Linked DNA regions of Homo sapiens: all the other regions are reported to be linked to region 3. Evidence: microRNA targets listed by miRTarBase, many of them from high-throughput screens and not tested one by one. Region 3 holds a microRNA gene; each other region holds the end of a gene's coding sequence.

Region 1 (5,060 bases), not on the chromosome of region 3:
CAAGACAAGGACCAGCCTCAAAGAGGAGAGCATGGTGTCCTGAAGGAGATGGCGGCCACCATCACCTGTCCTGTGGCTTTCCTCTGACTGCCCAGGTGGGGGCCCAGAGGCGGCGCCTCTCAGTCCAGCTTTGAGTGGAGTTACATAATTTCCAGGCTTCCCTGCAGTTCTCGCCTCCCCATCCCTGAACTGTTTACACAGTAGCTCTCACCCACAAAGAGTCCGCATGATGGCTTTTCCTCTGTTTGGAAGATGTGGATGGCTGTGTCCCAAGTTTTTCCTACCTAAGATCCTTTTCAGTAGGGGATGGATTTGGTCTATCTGATGATCAAGAGTTCAGGGTGGCCTTTGTGATAGTGTTACACCCCCTCCCAGGTCCAATAAACAGTCTTCTGACAAATAATGGCCCTTCCTTTTCCTTCCCCACCTGTCCACCACCTGGTAATGTGATGTAAGCGTGGCAAAATCCCACACACCCCTTCCAGAAATCCCAGGACTCGTGTGGGAAATACTGTCATAATTAAAGCCTTCTGAGAAATTGCTGCTTCTTCCTTGAACTTACCTACTTTTGAGCGGTCCTTTAATCCTGCATTAAGGGGATACCCCCCCAAAAATGGTTCTACTTAATTATCCCCCCTTCCTCACTCCTTTCTCCTCATGAATCAGGCAAGCCTTTTTTTTTTAGATGACCCAGATGCCCAAAGCAATAATTACATTTCAAGGGTATTTTTTAAGAGTATTTATTCCAAACACAATGTTCACTTTAAATGCAAAATAGCTGGTAGAAAAAAAAACACTGAAAAATATACTGACCCTTTGCCCCATATACAGACATCAGCCTTTGGTATTTGCTTTCAGGTAATTAGGTAAAACAAACAAACAAAAACTTGAAACTATTATTTATCTCCAAGAAAACAACGTAGAGTTGAGGTATTCTATTTAACAGATGTGATCTCCATCCAATAAGGTCTCTCTGTTAATTAACAGCCTTGTGACATGCTGTTCCAATCCTTTCCTCCTAAAGTAGAATTTCATTTGAGCATATGTTCATAAAACTGACAGTGTTCCTTAATAATCACTAAGGTTGCCATAGAAACTCCCTGGTGCTGGTGCCCAGCCGCACGGAGGACAGGAGGCCTTCACAGGGCACTGAGGAGGGCCTGGCACGGACCCTGAACTGGCCCGCCTGCCCCTCCGTGTGCAGCCCCTGCCCACGGCTGCACGGGACAGCTGGGTGCAGGGCTCTTGCCTCAAAGGGTCACAGGTTGCCCCTGCATCTCCAAATTAAGACCACCAACTCCACCTGGAGCTGGTGTCAGCATCCTCCCCACCTGGGTTAGCCTTCTGGACGTGCTGTGAGATAATAGAGCTCAGCACCAAAGCAGCTGGGAAGACATTCCTGAACATTCTCCAGGAAACAAACCCATAGACCACAACATGCCCAGCCTGCCCCACTGGGCCCTGTTCACTACCAGGTGGGCTTCCAGCCTGGTTCCAGCAACAGATTCCACAACCTGCCGCGGCAACCAGTTTCCTTTCTCCCAAGACAGCAGGGAAGTGCCAGAGGCTCCGTGTGAACTCAGAGCCTGATAAAGAAAGCGTAAGGGCAAGTCCCCATCAGGGCCAAGAGCTCTCTGAGTTACCAAAGGCCTCGTCAACATAGCCAGTGCTACCCCTGGACACATTTCTTGAAAATATTTCATTAATGCTACAAACATTATTGATCATTTTACTTTAGGCCTTGAACCAGCATATTTTTTACTTTCCCCACCCAGCAGGATAAGCTGTCGTATTTAACCTAAATGGTCTCTGTCTCAGCGTTTCACGTCTGGCTGCGTGGCAGATGGCTACAGGTGTTAGGCAAATAACAGCACTGCTGGGGACTCAAGGCAGTGGGGGTGCTGCAGAAACACAGGTAGAAATGCCCCGTGCATTGAGACACATGTTCAGTCACCACAGATTAGAGAACATAGAGAGCTTAGGATGTATACCTGTGTACGCTGAGCCAGGCCTACAGCCCAGAGAAGACATTTTTTCTTCATTTACATTAGCTTATGAAAAATAAAGGGAAAACAACCCTCTTCAATACAAAAACAAAAAAACAAAACAAAGCAATTCCATTACAATAAAAATGAAAGCAATAACAATTTGGAGATCAAAGCTGCCTAGCTCTTGGCAATAATGAGCTATCTGGATTTCACATCTTCCGCTAGCATGGTTCTGCCCGGCTTTGGTAACACCACATGTGGGTAAAACGGTATAAAGAATTGAAGAACTGTGGGCACAGAATCACCCTTACTGCAGATTCTCATTCTTAATATTTCCCTTTAACAGCATTTTGCTGTTCTCAAGTCTCAGAAACTTTATGTGGTGGGATGGGAGGGAACCACCATAACCGCCTGCCTGCCTTTTTTTTTCTTAACTGTTATTGTTCATAATAGAGATGGTGTCTCACTATGTTACCCAGGTTGGTCTCAAACTCCTGAGCTCAAGCAATCCTCCCACCTTGGCCTCCCAAAGTGCTAGGATTACAGGCGTGAGCCACCGCGCCCGGCCATCCTGCCTTTTTGCCAACCTAAGATGAGTTGCCTCAAGCAGCAATAGGGTCTAAAATCTACAGACAAGCCCAGCAATGAAAATCACGGCTTACTGAAGACAGTAACAGCTTAAACCTGGAAAACCGTAAACAAAACATGGTCACTTTCATCCTTTCGCACCTGTCTGGTGATGGTGGTGGTTTTTCTAAGAGGGTAGAGTATTAGAAAAGTTTTGTGGTCTGGTAAATATTGGGTCCATGGTTACACGGCTGATTTAAATCATATCCCCACTCTGGAATACCCTGATAACTTGAGAGCTAACTGGGTAACCACTAACACCACTGAATTTTCAAAGCTCGGACAGAAAAGTCAGCTGAAGTGGTTAATCATGGTGTTACAACTAGACATTTAGTCCTGCTTCAATTCTTGCAGAGCTGAATCAACTCAAGGAACTAAATAAAAAGAGGAAGGCACCGAGGTAAGGGATTTTTTTTAAATGGGATTTTTTTAAAACCTCTTTGATAGCAGAAAGCTCAGGGCTTTCAGGGTGGGGAATTTCTAGGACCCTGCCGGGCAGTCGTGGGAGGCTTCCTTCTCGGCACTGGGACAGGGACCGGACACCCTCTCCATAACCACCTGGGGGAGTAGTCACACGCTGGTTTTTCCCTAGAGTAGAGAAGAGGCAGGCTATTTTTCCACTTTTTAAGACAAAAACAAAATACAGAATGAAACCACAATCTCTTCTCTAATAGGGAAAATATTTTTTCTTTTTCTTTTTCTTTTTTTGAGACAGGGTCTCACTTGCTCTGTCACCCAGGCTGGAGTGCAGTGGTGCAATCTCGGCTCACTGCAGCCTTGACCTCCCAGGCTCAAGAGATCCTCCCACCTCAGCCCCCCAAGTATCTGGGACTTCAGGCACACTCTACCACACTTGGCTAATTTTTATGCTTTTTGTAGAGATGGGGTTTTATCACATTGCCCAGGCTGATCTCAAACTTCTGGACTCAAGTGATCCTCCTGCCTCGACCTCCCGAAGTGCGTGGGCCACCATGCCTGGCAGGAAAATATTTTTTCTCTTCCTCCTTTTTCACTTGACTTGGTTTTGGGCTAAACAAAGTTATGGTGCTTCCCCCACACCTAAGTAAGTTACTTCTATGCTGACACAGCGAATATTGGATATTCCACCCTCTCAAGAGAAAACAGTCAGCAGTTTTTTAAAAACCAAGTTTAAACACATTCTTGCCAGGCTCATTTTTCTTTTCACATTGTCTTCCTTAATATTATCTTCCCTAGTTACCCAGGTTCAGCTGACAACAAACAAAGCTGCAGTAAAACCGTTTTGATCTCAGAAATGGCAGAAGCCCTCCCTGCTGCTAGCTCTCCTTTGTGGGAGGTGGAGAAGAGAGAACATTGGTTTTCAGAGGCTGTGATCCCCCACTCAGCTCCCACTCTACAGGGGATGGTAGAGACCCTGTGCCCCTCTCCTCTCCTTCCTCTGCTTCTCACCTGAGGTCCTGCAACCCAAAGCCAATGCAGTTGCCTCTGTATTCAGCAAATGCCTAGGATCATCATTCACATTTAGCAAAATGCTAATGAGGAACTAATTATAATTCTGTTGAAAACGACCAGGCCCTGAGATACTGTATTATTCACCCACTCACCCTCAGCTGTTTTTCAACTGTAGGGAAGAAAGGGAGGAGAGAGCTTCTTCCCCCAGCCTTGGCGGTTTAAGTAAAAGCCGTCCCCAGGCCTAGAAAAACAGAATTTGCTAAGGCACTTGGGTTTTAAGAGTTTGAGTTGGAAGATGAAACGATGCAGTGGGCCAGGAGCATGGCGGCTGGAGGAGGCTTTGGCTGGAAATCCATCCCACCTGCCTGAGGGTGCAGCTTGTGCAGAGGTGTTGAGGGGTGGGCTGCCAGCCGCTTCTCCACACCGAGGCCCCCACCAACCTGCCCAGCTTTTGAGTGTCCGTGTGAGTGTCCAAAGAGTCTTGATATGGTTCTCTTCACAGTGGCCCAAGTTCACTCTAGCCCCTTTAAGCTGGGCATTTGGAAAGGGAGGTTTGAAACCTCAACCAGCTGAACAGCTGGAGCAGGCTGATTTTCCCCTGGCGTAGAACCTTCCGCAAGGCTCTTCCGTGAAGCCAAAGGCCGCACACCCCTGAGATAAGCTGGCATGGCAGTGAGAAGCATCTTTTGCTGAGCCCGTTTGTGTTTTATCATCCACAGGGTCCAGGCTGCTGGTGCCACCCAGCCAGCTATCTGGGGAAGAAGTAGTCTGTATTGCTGATGTCATAAGGGCTCCGTGGGTCCCTGGCATCTGGTCGGTTGTGGCTCGAGGTATTGTCAGACCCCAGGCTGCTGGGGGACACCGGTGGGGAGATGAGAGGAACAAGCACTGGGGTGGGTCGAGGCCTCTCCGGGACCAGCTGCCCCAAAGAGTACGGCGGATGCATGCTTGTCTTGCCTTCCTTCAGAGCCCGCAGCTTCCACGTCTTCTTGAACCTTCACACAAACACACAAA
Region 2 (5,060 bases), not on the chromosome of region 3:
TCAGCCTCCCAAGTAGCTGGGATTATGGGCGCCTGCCACCATGCCTGGCTAATTTATATGTTTTTAGTATACACACATATATACTGTGGGATTCCATTTATGTACGATTCTACAATTCTAGAAATGCAAACTAATCTATAGTTGCAGAAAGCAGGTCAGTGGTTGCCTGGGGACAGTGCTGGGAGTGGCAGGATGGTGAGATTACAAAGGAGCAAGAGGCAACTTCTGGGGTGATCTATATGTTAATTATCTTGAGTATGGTGATGGTTTCATGGGTATACACTTGGGTATATGTCAAAACTTCGGCCAGTCGCAGTGGCTCATGCCTGTAATCCCAGCACTTTGGGAGGCGGAGGCAGGCTGATCATGGGGTCAGGAGTTCAAGACCAGCCTGGACAACATGGTGAAGCCCCGTCTCTACTAAAAATACAAAAATTAGTGGGCCTCGTGGCACATGACTGTAATCCCAGCTACTCGGGAGGCTGAGGCAGTATAATTGTTTGAACTTGGGAAGCGGAGGTTGTAGTGAGCCGAGATGGCGCCATTGCACTCCAGCCTGGGTGACAGAGTGAGAGTCTGTCTCAAAAAAACAAACACAAAACTTTTCAAATTGTACACGTTAAATACCTACAATGTATTATACTTCAATTATCCTCAATAAATCTGCAAAAAAACACTGATTTTTTTTTTAAGACTTACAGAGTAAGACTGGGCCAAAAATAGTAACCACTGCCATTTGTAATGTTGCATTATCTGGCAGGTTCTTTTTTTTCTTTTTTTTTTGAGACGGAGTCTCGCTCTGTCGCCCAGGCTGGAGTGCAGTGGCGTGATCTCGGCTTACTGCAAGCCCCGCCTCCCGGGTTCACACCATTCTCCTGCCTCAGCCTCCCGAGAAGCTGGGACTACAGGCACCCGCCACCACGCCCGGCTAATTTTTTTTTTGTATTTTTTAGTAGAGATGGGGTTTCGCCATGTTAGCCAGGATGGTCTCGATCTCCTGACCTCGTGATCCACCCGCCTCGGACTCCCAAAGTGCTGGGATTACAGGCGTGAGCCACCGCGCCCGGCCTATCTGGCAGGTTCTTTGCAAAGTCCTTTGCAAAGATTATTTCATTTAGTTCTCAAAATGTTCTTGTGAAGTGTTTTTAAATTAATTTTTGGAGGTTTAGATAGAGTAACTTGCCCAAAGCTACACACAAAGCTACCAAAGAGCGAAGGAAGGACTCAAACTTAGGTCTGTCAGACTCCGAAGCTGGGCTCTTAACTCCTGCACGACACTGCCCTCTATGGTCATCCCGAGGTACTAACATCAATGAGGCCTGGTTAACTACTCATGACATCATCTTTAACTGTAGCCTGAGAAAGTCACCCAATTTTCTTTTTCTTTTTTTTTTTTTCCAGAAAGAATTTCGCACTTTCGCCAGGCTGGAGTGCAGTGGCATGATCTTGGCTCACTGCAACCTCCACTTCCAGGTTCAAACTATTCTCCTGCCTCAGCTTCCCAAGTAGCTGGGATTATAGGCGCGTGCCATCACGCCCGGCTAATTTTGTATTTTTTAGTAGAGATGGGGTTTCCCCGTGTTGGTTAGGTTGGTCTCAAACTCCTGACCTTAGGTGACCCACCCGCCTCAGCCTCCCAAAGTGTTGGGATTACAGCCGTGAGCCAGGGCGCCTGATCCGGAAGTCACCTTTCATTCAGAGTGCCTGAATCAGGGTAAATAGTGCATTATACTAGAAAAAAGGATGTGTCTTCAGGACTTCTTTCTGGGGTCCAGGGATGTGGGAGGGAGACTGTATTCCTCTTCCCCACCCCAATCGATCTCCTCCTCTCCTAGTGCTCCCCACACCCCTCCCAATGTTTCTGGGCCTATCTCACCTTGCTGCCTTCCCACACATTCTCATATTTCAGAAATGATGAGTCCAACACTGATCTAAGAGAGTAGAGAGAAAAGGTTAGGAAAATAGCCTTGGGAGGCAGCTGTGAAGTCAGGGTCCCTGGGCCTGTAGATAGTGAGTTGGGACTCCAAGTCACACTGCACACTTGGCTTGTGAGCATGATGTTCACCATGGCTCAGTTGCACCTATTCGTGCAGTCACCACCAGAAGCCCAAGCCTCCAGCTCATTCCACGTCTCTCAGATTCTGGTTCTCATGCAGTCCTTTCTGACCCCATTTGCACTCTTCCCCATCTCCTGAAACCCTTTCACAGCTTTCTGGAACCCAGGATTCATCATCAATAAAATCCTCCAAATGCAACATTCCCTTCACCATCTGCTCTGCAGTATAGTCCACAGACCAGTTGCATCACAATCACTTGGGACACTATTAAAATGCAGATTCCTGGCCAGGCGCGGTGGCTCACGCCTATAATCCCAGCACTTTGGGAGGCTGAGGTGGGCTGATCCCTTGAGATCAGGAGTTCAAGACCAGCCTGGCCAACATGGTGAAACCCTATCTCTACTAAAAATACAAAAATTAGCCGGGCATGGTGGCGGGCACCTGTAATCCCAGCTACTGGTAGGCTGAGGCAGGATAATCACTTGAACCCGGGAGGCGGAGGTTGCAGTGAGCCGAGATCGGGCTACCGCACTCCAGCCTGGGTAAGAGAGAGAGACTCCATCTCAAAAACAACAAAGTTTGGGATTATTAAGACGAAAAACTAAGTCAATTCTTACCAGCTAGGTTCTTGAAAGTAGAATCTATGGAGACAATCAAACAACATACTCTGCGCTTAGAATGCAGAGTATGTTGTGAGTTTGTAAACCCACAGAAGAGGTAGTAGTTAGGACCCACGTGACAGGCTGTGACTCTAGACACTTCAAGAGGAATCTTGGATCAGCTCTGTAAGTACACCCACAATCACGATTTACTATTTGAATCTGGTTCTGTTGAGCAAGCTGGACTTTGGGATCACTCAGATTCAGTACCCATTTTTGCCTTGGACCTCTTAATTTTCTTCTATCACTTCCTGTTTACCCTTGGTGTGATCAGGTTGCAAGGGGCACTGATGTCTTGAGACTCCCTGAAGGATATAGATTATCGCCTACATTCAGTGCTCTTACACACTCCGGGTTTGCCACAGATATTCCAGTACAAACACTGGTGTACTGACAGTCAAGTCAGGTCAGCAGTTCTTGTCTCAGATTTCTGTTGGGGAGTGCATTCCAATTAACAGAACCTCCACATTCTAAAATCTCTACCCGTTCCTTAGGCTGGGTGCAGTGGCTCACACCTATAATCCCAGCACTTTGGGAGGCCGAGGCAGGTGGATCATTTGAGGTCAGGAGTTTGAGACCAGCCTGGCCAACATGGTGAAACCCCATCTCTACCAAAAAAATAAACTAGCTGGTGCATGCTTGTAATCCCAGCTATTTGGGAGGTTGAGGCAGAACTGCTTGAAAGGGGGCAGGGGTGCAGGTGACTCCCAAGTGTCTAAAATCTCCAAGCTATACAGGTGTTACCTTTCACTGGCGAAGTCAGTAACAATTTACTCCCAAATAGATTTTTTTTTTCCTGAATTCTAGGACAAATTAAACTATTGTCATACAGACAAAAATAAGGTAGAGCCTTTCTCTACCTTATATTTCCGGGATGTCTCGTTTCTAGAAATGCCTTTAGTGTCTTTTCCAAGGTAGGAAGATGAGCATCTGAACATTAATCCTTTTATGCTCTGAAGCTATCCAAGTCATACATCCACTATTCAAGTTCCCCCTCCAGGGGTATAAACACCTCAGTTTAGGTCACTTCCCAATGTGCTCCTCACTCAACTAATAGCTTTTCCTCATTCTCCTAATGTTTACCCATTTTTAGGATGCCAACTTAAACTTGATGTGGTTAAATCCAAAATTCAGATGCCTAATCTCCATTTCACACAGCTATGCGAATTGTGAGGCCAACCATACGACCACAATTAAAGTTTAATTTACATAAATAGCTAGGCGAGGTGGCTCAAGCCTGTAATCCCAGCACTTTGGGAGGCCAAGGCTGGTGGATTAACTGAGGTCAGAAGTTCAAGACCAGCCTGGACAACATAGTGAAACCCCATCTCTACCAAAAATACAAAAATTAACCAGGCATGGTGGCAGACACCTGTAATCCCAGCTACTCAAGAAGCTGAGGCAGGAGAATCACTTGAACCCGGGAGACGGAGGTTGCAGTGAGCTGAGATCACGCCACTGCAATTCAGCTTGGGCGACAAAGACTCCGTCTCAAAAAAAAAAAAAAAAAAAAGAAAAAAATTAAATTACATGAATAAGCTTTCTTCCCCATGAAAATAATGTGTGTCACTTCACACTTGGTCTAACACACAAAATCCCCACCTTATCTGGCACAGATACACTTAACATGCAATATTAAGTACAATTTCCATTTTATTTTTCTCCAGAGAATAGCCTGTCTTCAGTCTTTAAGAACTCAGCTCCTTACATGGGCTTTGGTGGGGGACGTGGGGCAGCACCCTGAAAGACAAAGAAACAAAAGAGTAAATTAAAACCCATGGATCCAAGACTCCCTTCCCCCAAAGAACTTGACCACCATCCTCTCACAAACTGATGTATTCAGGCTACAAATGCATGGGAAGCTGATAGAGGTGGAGGGAGAACACTACTCTGCATCCTAAAAACCAATTCTGATTCTAACACTGCTTTGCAGTGTCTCTAAGCATGTTCAGGTGTGGGTCTCACCTGCCTTACAGCTTAACCTGAGGCACAGACCTTAATTTGATACCCCCTGCACCACAGGAGGAAGCAACTTTTTTTTTTTTTTAAGAGACAAGGTCTCACTTTTGCCCTGGCTGGAGCGCAAGTGGTATAATCATAGCTCACTGCAACCTCAAACTCCTGGGCTCAAGTGATCCTCCTGCCTCAGCCTCTCGAGCAGCCAGACTATAGGTTCACACTATCATGCTTGGCTTCCTTCTCAATATTTTTTGAAGAGATGGGGTCTTGAACTGCTGGTTTCTAGCAATCTTCTTGTCCCAGCCTCCCAAAGTGTTGAGGTTACAGGTATAGGACACCCTGACCCTCCAGGATGAAATTTTAACCATCACTCCCCTGGCTTCCA
Region 3 (5,070 bases):
ATGGTGCAATCTCAGCTCACTGCAACCTCTGCCTCCTGAGTTCAAGGAGTTCTCTCACCTCAGCCTCCCAAGTAGCTAGAATGACAGGCGCCTGCCACCATGACCAGCTAATTTTTGTGTTTTTACTAGAGATGGGGTTTCACCATGTCGGTCAGGCTGGTCTCGAACTCCTGACCTCCGTGATCCACCCACCTCAGCCTCCCAAAGTGCCGGGATTACAGACGAGAGCCACCACGCCCGGCCTGTCCAGTCTTGTTCTGCAGTCCCCAATGGGGATTTTTTTTTTCCTGTTCATTTGTCTTTTTATTTTAATCTACTTGTCCCTGACACTGAAAATTTTTCCTTCCTAACAGCTTACCATCATTTCTCAGAATAGACCTGCTTCCTCTGTGAGAAGCTTATAGTTGATTCAACCCTCAACCACTAATGCCAACAACCCTAGTGAGTTCTTTTGACTACAGCTGGACCATTTATCCTGTTTCCTGTGGGTAGCGGTTCCAATGTACCATTCCAACAGGCAAAACCTCGCCTCTGAATACAGGTTGCTTGGCAAGATCTAAAATGTTTGCTGTGCCTAATATAAACTATTGTAAAGAAAATCCATCTCAATCACAGTGACAAATGTCACATGAGACAAAACCACAGATATTTTCGCAAAAATAGGGTCCTTTAGAACCCTAGAAGGGTCTCTCTAGTAACAGGTGGGATGTTCAGCAGCTCTTGTTGTTGCCACAGTGAGCGATGCCTGTTCGTCCAGCCCTTAACACCTCTTACTCCATGGAAGTTCTGCCTGCACTGCTTTATAGAACACCTCTTGGGTTGAGGTAGAGTTGGAGGGGACCTCAGTGTCCCTTGCTGATGGGATGTGCACTGCTTAGCAAGCGCACGGAGGTGGAGTGCATGGGCTCTGAGTTTTTATTGGGTAAATGCAGCCGAAATGTAGTGTGCATGAACAGGTCAAAAAATTGCACATTTGATTTAATTTTTAAATTTTAGAGATGGGGGTCTCACTGTGTCACCCAGACTAAACTGGGCTGTGCTCCTATGCGTACCCTAGTAGCTGGGACTTCAGGTGAATATTAACCCATGCATAGGCAAGGAGAGAGGAAGGCTCTGACAGTCTGTGATCTCCCCTCACTGCAACCTCCACCCTCTGGACTGGGAACGTCAGGGCACTGCACCGATGCAGGCAGGATGAGCCGAGGGGAAAGGAGAGCCAGGCATCACTGGCTGGGGACATTTTGGGTTTGATCTGGATGGAGCAGGTGTCTCCTGGAGAGAGAGCCCCTGGGATTTTCACTCTGCTCCCTGGCTGTCTTAGTCATGGAATCTGACAACAGAGACTCCTGCCCAGGGCCACTTCATTTGGTTTCTGGACCCCAGTGGTCCTTCCTGCCTGGACTTAGGATCTTTTGGGGAAGTTTGGGATCTGGCAGGGCATCTGCATAATCCATAGAAATCCCTGAGAGTCACTTCCCTTGGCTGACATCTCCATGTTCCTACCCATTACCTTCCAAAGGAGACCCTTAACTGAATTACCAAAGGGGGCTTCCCAGAGCAGGGAAACCCGGTTAACTTTCTATTTCAGGTCAACAGTATACTTGAGATGTACTTGAACTAGAAATGATTGGTTGTTTAGGTGTGGGCATTTGTTTTTCCTAACTTAGTCTCCAAGAAAAAAAATTATTGAGGTTTTACAGCCTAGCCTGTGGTCTATCCTGAAGAATGTTCGTGTGTGTGACAATGTACATTCTTTTTTTCCCCCCAGCTCTGTCAAATCTTACTGAGGAGCTTTTACGGCCTAGCCTGTGGTCTGTCCTGGAGGGTATTTGTGTGTACAACAATGTATATTCTTAAACATTATCTTAGATTCCATTTTGGATGTTCCCATCAGGACTGTGTGTTTCTGTGCTGGAACTCAAGTGAACACTGGCTCAACATCCTTAGAAATCCAGCCCAATTCTCTTGGTTAAAGATAAGGTATGTGTGGTAGGCATTGCTTTTTCTCTTTGGGGACAAAACTCAGGAGGATTGCCCCTTGATGAACAAGGCTAACCTGCTAAGCCTTTGAAGCAAGGAACTGGAGATGGTCCTTTCAGGGGTTTATGTTCTGGATTCCATAAAACATGCAAACAGGGGCAATGAATGCACCTTTTTTATTTTTATTTTTATTTTTTTTTGAGATGGAGTCTTACTCTTGCCAGTCTGGAGTGCAGTGGCACGATCTCGGCTCACTGCAACTTCTGCCTCCTGGTTCAAGTAATTCCCCTGCCTCAGCCTCCCGAGTAGCTGGGACTACAGGTACATGCCACCACAGGCGGCAAATGGTTGTATTTTTAGTAGAGACGGAGTTTCACCATGTTGGCCAGGATGGTCGTGGTCTCTTGACCAGCCTCCCAAAGTGTTGGGATTCCAGGCGTGAGCCACCGCGCCTGGCCAATGAATGCATCTTTATTTTTGTGTTCATTTTAATCTGGTAAGGTAAATTCCAACAAAAAACCCAGAGTTTTGGAGTGAGAAGATCTCATGCAGTCATTCTCCAAAAGAAAGCACTTTCTGTTGTCTGAAAGCAGAGTGCCTTCTTTTGGAGCGTTACTGTTTGAGAAAAACCACGTTGAAGTTGATGCTGATCTTGGTAACACATTTGCAGAGCGTGCTTATCATCAGACTTGCATGATGTTGGGGTTCTGTTTTTGTTTAGTTTTTTTGCAACACAGGGTCTCTTGCCCAGGCTGGAGTGCGGTGACACTTCCAACCTAGACCTCTTGGGCTCAGTTGGTCCCTGCCCCCACCCCCTCCCCCTTTTTTTTCTCTTGAGACAGTCTCTCTCTGTGGCCCAGGCTGGAGTGCAGTGGTATGTTCTCTGCTCACTGCAACCTCTGCCTCCCGAGTAGCTGGTATTACAGGCACATGCCACCACGCCTGGCTAATTTTTGTATTTTTAGCAGAGACGGAGTTTCATCATGATGGCCAGATTAGTCTTGAACTCCTGACCTTAGGTGATCCACCTGCCTCGGCCTCGCAAAGTGCTGGGATTACAGGCATGAGCCACTGTGCCTGGCCCACAACGTATATTCTTAAATATCATCTTAGATTCCATTTTGGTTGCTCCCATCGGGACTGTGTGTCCCTGTGCTGGAACTCAAGTGAACACATGGCTCAAAATCCATTGCTGTTCTCTAGAAATCCAGCCCAATTCTCTTGGTTAAATATAAGGTATGTGTGGTAGGCTTTGCTTTTTCTCTTTGGAGACAATACTCAGGAGGGTTGCCCCTTCGTGAACAAGGCTAACCTGCTGAGCCTTTGAAGCAAGGAACTGGAGATGGTCCTTTTAGGGGTTTATGTTCTGGATTCCAGAAAACATGCAAACAGGGACAATGAATGCATCTTTATTTTTGTGTCCATTTTAACCTGGTAAGGAAAATTCCAACAAAAACCCAGAGTTTTGGAGCGAGAAGATCTCATGCAGTCATTCTCCAAAAGGGAGCACTTTCTGTTTGAAAGAAAACAAAGTGCCTCCTTTTAGAGTGTTACTGTTTGAGAAAAACCACGTTGAAGTTGATGCTGATCTTGGTAACGCATTTGCAGAGCGTGCTTATCATCAGACTTGCATGATGTTGGGGTTCTGTTTTTGTTTAGTTTTTTTGCAACACAGGGTTTCTGTTGCCCGGGCAGGAGTGCGGTGGCGCTTCCAACCTAGACCTCTTAGGCTAGTTGGTCCCCCCTACTTTTTTTGTTGTTTTTGTTCTTGAGACAGAGTCTCACTATGTGGGCCAGGCGGGCAGGCAGTGACACATTCTCTGCTCACTGCAACCTCGGCCTCCCAAGTAGCTGGTATTATAGGCACGTGCCACCACGCCTGGCTAATTTTTGTATTTTTAGCAGAGATGGAGTTTCACCACATTGGCCAGGTTAGTCTTGAACTCCTGACCTCAGGTGATCTGCCCGCCTCTGCTTTCCAAAGTGGTGGGATTACAGGCATGAGCCACCCTGCTCGGACTGCAGGGTGTTTTTTTTTTTTTTTTTAATTATTATTTGTATTTTTTTGTGCTGCCAAAGCAAGCACTTGTGTGTAGGAATTTTGTTTGTTTGTTTGTTTGTTTGTTTGAGATGGAGTCTCATTCTTGTCGCCCAGGCTGGAGTGCAGTGGCATGATCTCGGCTCACTGCAACCTACGCCTTCCGGGTTCAAGCGATTCTCCTGCCTCAGCCTCCTGAGTAGCTGGGATTTCAGGTGCATGCCGCCACCCCGGCTAATTTTTGTCCTTTTGGTAGAATCGGGGTTTTGCCATGTTGGTCCGGCTGGTCTCAAACTCCTGACCTCAACTAATCCACCTGCCTCGGCCTCCCAAACTGCTGGGATTACAGGCATGAGCCACCGCACCCGGTGAGGAGTTATTTTTAATGTGAGCAAACAGTATATTCTTTTTTTTTTTTTTCATAGACAGGGTCTCAACAATATATGATGTATATTTAATCATATAGTCTTATCATGTATATAATGTAGTCATATGTACACCAAACCCTGTTCTACACACGGAGAATACTCTTGTATCACTTTGGGTATTTATTTACTTGTTTCTTTCTGTGTTTTTCTTGTTTGTTTGTTTGTTTTGTTTTGAGACAAGGTCTAGCTTTATCACCCAGGCTGGAGTGCAGTGGTGCCATGTCGACTTACTGCAACCTCCACCTGCCACCTCAGCCTCCTGAGTACTTGTCTACAGGTGCGCACCACCACACCCAGCTAACTTTTCTATTTTTTGTGCATAAGGTTTCACCATATTACCCATGCTGGTTGAGCTCGAACTCCTGAGCTCAAGTGATCCTCCTGCCTTGCCCTCTTTAAGTGCTGGGTTTATTGGTGTGAGCCACCACGCCCCACCCATACTTGTGTATTTCTGTATTTATTGAGGAGCTTATACAGCATACCCTGTGGTCTATCCTGCAGGATGTTTGTGTGTGAGACAGTGTATATTCTTGAACATAGTAGATTCCATTTTGGATGCTCCCATCGGGACTGTGTGTCCCTGTGCTGGAACTCGAGTGAACACTTGGCTCAAAATCCATTGCT

The links. The annotated mature microRNA hsa-miR-519e-5p reads UUCUCCAAAAGGGAGCACUUUC and lies in region 3 at 3,473-3,494, shown strand. An mRNA with a match to its seed (bases 2 to 7 or 8) in the 3' UTR can be bound and repressed. Matches are read on the target gene's strand: a 7mer-m8 pairs with bases 2 to 8, a 7mer-A1 pairs with bases 2 to 7 and ends in A, and an 8mer does both.
Region 1: miRTarBase lists IL6R as a target of hsa-miR-519e-5p. Seed matches in the 3' UTR shown: 7mer-A1 at 4,461-4,467, 7mer-A1 at 1,407-1,413, 7mer-m8 at 1,277-1,283 and 7mer-m8 at 904-910.
Region 2: the mRNA of RPS26 is a reported target of hsa-miR-519e-5p. Seed matches in the 3' UTR shown: 7mer-A1 at 4,376-4,382.

The regions. Positions count from the first base shown.
Region 1 is chr1:154,465,115-154,470,174 of GRCh38, reverse strand. IL6R (interleukin 6 receptor) reads right to left here. Exons shown (of 10, transcript NM_000565.4): 10 at 725-5,041. The coding sequence ends at 4,795. It also overlaps a transcript of SHE not described here. Among named protein-coding and RNA genes, the nearest start is that of TDRD10, 35 kb to the left of the region's middle. RefSeq lists an enhancer at 4,709-5,060.
Region 2 is chr12:56,043,515-56,048,574 of GRCh38, reverse strand. RPS26 (ribosomal protein S26) reads right to left here. Exons shown (of 4, transcript NM_001029.5): 4 at 3,878-4,456. The coding sequence ends at 4,421. Among named protein-coding and RNA genes, the nearest start is that of RPS26, 4.1 kb to the right of the region's middle. RefSeq lists enhancers at 1,076-1,370, 1,961-2,554 and a cis regulatory region at 1,097-1,471.
Region 3 is chr19:53,676,481-53,681,550 of GRCh38, forward strand. It overlaps MIR519E (microRNA 519e), which reads left to right and starts at 3,460; the gene lies at 3,460-3,543. It overlaps MIR515-1 (microRNA 515-1), which reads left to right and starts at 2,523; the gene lies at 2,523-2,605. The region is part of intron 2 of LOC107985342 (a long non-coding RNA gene); the gene reads left to right. RefSeq lists an enhancer at 1,215-1,715.